2 separate regions of the Homo sapiens genome follow, and region 1 is linked to region 2. Evidence: fine-mapped QTL for protein levels in blood plasma. Region 2 holds a variant in brackets. A gene starts in the other region. All regions are shown on their reverse strands.

Region 1 (2,500 bases), not on the chromosome of region 2:
GGCCCAAGGCAGGAGCATGGCGGCCACTCGGCCAGGCGGCCAGCAACGTGGGGGCCTGGGAGGAAGGCAGGAGGCCCGACGTCCTGGGCAGCGGTGGCGGCGGCTGCCCGAGCCCAGAGCCTGGGACGGGACTCAGGGCCGATGTGCACCCCAGGGCCGGGAGCGGCCAGGCCGGGCCTCCAGGGCTCCCATGGCGGAGCTCAGGAAGTGGGAGTGGAGCGAGCTGGCCGCGGGGCGGGGACAGGGAGCGCTGGGAGCCAGGCCGGCCTGTCGCAATCGCAGCCCAGGGAAGAGGAACAGGCTTGTCTGCCTCGATGCGGGGCGGGAGGGGCGGCCGGGAAAGCACGTGAGGGCCGCGGGGCCGGAACCGGCCTCCTCCCTTCTTCGGAAGCCCGATCGGGAGAGCGGACTGCGGACAGCCCTGGCCCAGCCGAGGGAAGGGCGGCGGGCCCGGGGTCAGCCCTTGGACAAGCCTCGCAGGGAGAGCAGAGGGAGTTCCAGAGAGCGCAAGGGACAGCTGGGTGCGGGATCTGGAAAGCGAGGGGCCCAGGACGGGCAGTCATGGAGAGGGCAGGGCGCGGGGACTGCAAGGCCGCAGAAGCAGCTCTGAGACCGAGGAGAACCGGCTGGCAGATGCCCGGGTTCCTCCCCCGTTGTCCTGCCCTACTGTGGGAGTTTTTCAGACAAATTACAAGGGACTAGCAAATCAGCCAGCCCCCCACGCTACCAACCCAGCCCAATCCGCACAGGAGTGGGCACAGGTCACCTAGGAGACCCTTGAGAGCTGTGCAGCTTGCCCTGCTCCCTGTCCTCAGGGAACCTCCCTCCCAAAGAGAGGGGGAGGATATGCGGAGGGGAGTCCTGGGGCCAGCAGGCTGGACCTGGGCACTCAGTCCCTCTGCTCTGGCTTCTTTGCCCATGAACCTTCAAACCCCTTAGAACTGGAGAAAGCTGAGAGCCCACGCAGTCCAGCCCCCTCACCTTAAGCATGGAGAGGGAGGCTAAGGGTGATACATAAGGGAACCGGGATTCCAGGGTGGCCTGGTCTCGTTCCTGCCCTGTTTCATCCTCCCATCTCCCTCAACCCAACACCCCACCCACCCGTGGAGTTACTTGCAGCTGCCCCCTTTTACACGTGGTTCTCTGGTCCCCAAGTTTCCGTCTTCCTAACTCCCACCTGTCCTTGAGGCTTCACTGAGGCTCTGGAAGGCAACCTCTGCCCTAGGTTGCACAGTCCCCGTGAAGACTGCCCTCTGTACCTGGCTGTCTTGTTTGCTTCCCACCAGGCTGTGAGTGCCACCATGGCCCAGGCTGAATCTTCAAGTCTGTGTTCCCCATGCTTAGCAGAGTCTGGCACATACCATGTGCCCAATAGGTATTTATGGAATAAATGAGTGATGGCCACATCACAGAGCCAGTCCACCGCAGAGCCAGCTACAATCTGGGTCTCCTGATGTCTAGGTCCCAACTCATTCCAGCAGTCCTGCCAACTCCTTGTGGCTCAGGGATGTCTCCCTTGGGATGAGGGGCTAACCTCTCTTGAGATAGGTCACTTGGGCACTATCCCCCTCCCTGAAGGACTCTGTTCAGCACTCGTCCTTACACTGGTCTGTCTAACTTCAGGTCTGATGTCTGGACAGGTGCAGGTGATGGGAAGTGTGCATGGGGAGGAGAGGTCACAAAAGGGGGAAAGGACCTGCCTAGGCTGTAGGCATTTCACTCTGTGAGGCTCTCTCCCCTCACCTGGTGCAGGCAGCTCACCGTACAGATGGGCCAAAGATGGCTGGAAAGGGCAGAAGTATCAGAACAGCATGCACTGCGCGGGGCTGCTGAGCCTTCCAGGGCCCTAGCGCTGGGGGCTGGGATGAGAGTCCCTGCTGAGCTCTTAAACGCGTAAAGGAATGTGTGTGTAGCGACCCTAGGTCCTTTTTTCTCTCTCTTCTTTTTACTTTTTACTGTGGAAATTCCACATGCAAGATAATATACCAAAAGAGAAAAAGTAATATTGGGAGTCTCCCATATACTCCTTACCCAGCTTCAACTCACTGTCAGTTTCATTTATTCTGTATACCCCCTCCCCCACCAACGCACACACTCTTCAAATCCCTCATTATTATTTTGAAGTAAATCCCAGACATCATATCATTTCATTTGAAAATATTTCAGGATTTTACCCTAAAAGACAGGGACTCTTTCTCTATTCTATTTTTCTTTTTTTCCCCACCCTGTCTTATGCTGCTGAGACCCTTTCTTTTAATAGAGGTGTAACATATAATACAATGAAACCGTAAGGTACACTGATCTTACAGATACAGCTCAGAGAGTCTTCACTTTTGTGTATTCTTGCATATCCCCCAACTGGTCCAGAACACCTCTTCTCTTCTCTTCTTTTCTCTTTTCCTTTCCATACAGAGTCTCGCTTTGTCGCCCAGGCTGGAGTGCAGTGGTGCAATCTCGGCTCACTACAACCTCTGCCTCCCAGGTTCAAACAATTCTCTGC
Region 2 (2,500 bases):
GCCGAAGCAGGCGGATCACAAGGTCAGGAGATCAAGATCAGCCTGGCCAATATGGTGAAACCCCGTCTCTACTAAAAATACAAAAATTAGCCAGGTGTGGTTGTGGGTGCCTACAGTCCCAGCTACTCGGGAAGCTGAGGTGGCACAATCACTTGAACCCAAGAGGCGGAGGTTGCAGTGAACCGAGATCGTTCCACTGTACTCCAGCCTGGGTGACAAAGCAAGACTTCGCCTCAAAAAATATAAATAAATAAATGTGTGCATTATACATTCTCACAGGGAGCATCCCCTGAGCCAAAACCTCCAAAGTGTCCAACGACCCCCTCCCTTGAGCAGCCCTCGGCTCAAGCTCCAGGCCTTGCAGTACTTCAGGTTTGGGGTAAGAGGTGCCCGACCTGCACTCTGGAAACGCCAGAAGTCCACACACCGACGCGGTAGGACAGCCAAGCAGAGCCCTTGCCCGCCCCCGGCCCCATGAGCCCCCCGGCCCAGCACTCACGGGATGTTGGAGAGGTGCAGCGTGGCCGAGGGCGGGAATATGTTCTGGAAGTTCTTGGAGCCCGGCTTCTTGAAGCGGTGCAGGGGTGAGTTGCCGTAGTCCTTGGTCAGGCCCTGGTCCTCCTGGCCCTCGCGGGGCAGCTGCACGTTCTGGTGCTTCGAGAGCGTGATGCGGATGGGCTTCCCGTGCAGCTTGTGCCCGTTCAGGTGGCTCATGGCTGGGGGAGCAGCACCCGCGTGACCAGGCGCCCGAGAGGGAACGCAGCCCCCGCCCCTGCCCCCTCCACCCCGGGGCCGCCCCGGCCTCTTACCCAGCTGGGCCTGGTTGCCGTCCGCCATCTGCACTAGGGCGTTCTCCTTCTTATTGAACAGGATCTTCACGCGCTGCACGTCACCGTAGACGCCTTCAAAAGCCCAGGGATGGGGCCTGAGTCTCCTGCTGCCTGCCCCGCCCATCTCCCCGTCAGCCCCGGCCCCGCGCACCCCCACAAGGCCCGGCTCAGCCCGGCCGGGTTTGCTTTATCGGCCACTGCGGAGCTGCGTCTCGCAGCCACAGGGCGCGCTAACAGGAGCAGCTCCGTTCAGCAAAGTCATAGCATCCAGGACAGGTAAGCTGCCAGCGGGTGGCCACGGTGGCATATGCCACCGACAGGTCTAACTCTGAAAAGCATGCAGGGCGATAAACCATGCGTACGTATCTACGGGACCAAATAAAATTCGCAAACCGAAAGCAAACCATAAAACGAGGCGGATGCCACGGAGCATCAGAGTGCCAAACCGCAAACTCATAATACGTCTCAGGGCATCAAAATCATCTCAATTAATGAAAACAAGGTAATAAAAGTGTGAACGATAACATACCGAAAAGAATAAAGAGGCTTTGGGGTGTGACTCTCTTTAGAGACAGCAGAGCAAGGCAGCGGAGGGACAGGGGAGAGGGAGAGGTCAAGGGGGGCGAGTTGCCAATCGTCCACACGAGGAAGACAGTCCCCGCAGGCGTGCAGTGGTTGATGGATGATGAAGTTGTCAGGATGTTAATATTCAAGGGCAGGTTGGTTTCCGGAGAGCAGGGTTTGAGGGGGAATTTTTGTTTTTTATTTGTTTATGTTTTTGTTTTGTTTCAAGCAACAACAGGAAGCAGAAGTACCGTGCAGTCAGTTGGCAAAGAAATTCCGGATCAGGGCAAGAAAAAAAATAGGGAAAGGGGAAGGGGAGAAAAGAAAAAAAGTAGCAAAAAAACACAGGTCAGTAAATACATAAGAATCAGGTAGTGTTCTATCAGTCACACTCCACACACATTCCAGTTACAGGTTTACCTCGA[C/G]GGGCACACGGTAAGAGAAGCACCTTCACTCACATGCCGGCAGAGACAGCGCTGCTGGAGGGGCTCCCAGAAGCCGATCCCAACCACGCCCCCCAGGAGCGCGCGTGCAGCTCCGCTCGCGGCCACCTCAGCCAAGCCCTGCAGCAGCGCTGTCTCCCGCAGCTGTGGCACAAGTCAGTCTCTAAGGACGATTACAGGCGTGAAGGGAGATCGAGTCTGTTAGTGCACGGCCTCGCTCAGGAGGAGCTGGAGGGACAGCACCCGGCTCGTGGTAAGAGGCACAGGCAGGGAGTGCGTCCTGGGCCCCCGCGAGGGAGGGCCAGGCTGGGCACCGCCTTGAGGAAGTCACAGGAGTTGCCGGGAAACAGAACAGCCTGAAATGCTGATTCCAGGAGGATCCCATCCATCAAGAGTTACATATTTTGGGCCTCTTGTTTCACCCAAGCTCTCCCCGAGGGGAATTTAACCATTCTGGGAAATAACGGATCCACCAGTTAAGTGACAGGCTCTCGAGCCACAGGGGCTGCCCACACCCCGCCGCGCTAACCCTGTGTGTCCCGCTGACCAGCAGGGCGGCCTGCTGGGGCTCTGAACTGCGCGCCCTGCTCAGCTCCAAGTAATTTTTAGATTGCCTTTGGGTAACCAAAAAATAATTCATTCTGCGTATCATGCAAGAGAAAA

Which allele goes with the higher level. Positions count from the first base shown, and alleles are read on the strand shown. Strength reflects both the effect of a copy and how common the allele is.
As copies of G replace C in region 2, the plasma level of the protein whose gene starts at base 215 in region 1 goes up (weak association).

Evidence for each region. PIP is the chance, under the fine-mapping model, that this variant and not a neighbour inherited with it causes the effect. The UK Biobank Pharma Proteomics Project read protein levels with antibody pairs (Olink). The fine-mapping took linkage between variants from a reference panel, not from the people measured, so its PIPs are less certain.
Region 1: LTBR starts here. The variant in region 2 is fine-mapped to the plasma level of the LTBR protein (UK Biobank, PIP 0.99).

The regions. Positions count from the first base shown.
Region 1 is chr12:6,381,877-6,384,376 of GRCh38, reverse strand. LTBR (lymphotoxin beta receptor) reads right to left here and starts at 215. Exons shown (of 10, transcript NM_002342.3): 1 at 1-215. The coding sequence starts at 18. RefSeq lists an enhancer at 297-1,162.
Region 2 is chr19:806,762-809,261 of GRCh38, reverse strand. It overlaps PTBP1 (polypyrimidine tract binding protein 1), which reads right to left. Exons shown (of 15, transcript NM_002819.5): 11 at 1,360-1,393; 12 at 810-902; 13 at 500-716. Among named protein-coding and RNA genes, the nearest start is that of MIR4745, 3.1 kb to the right of the region's middle. The variant C/G (reference allele first, on the strand shown) is at 1,820.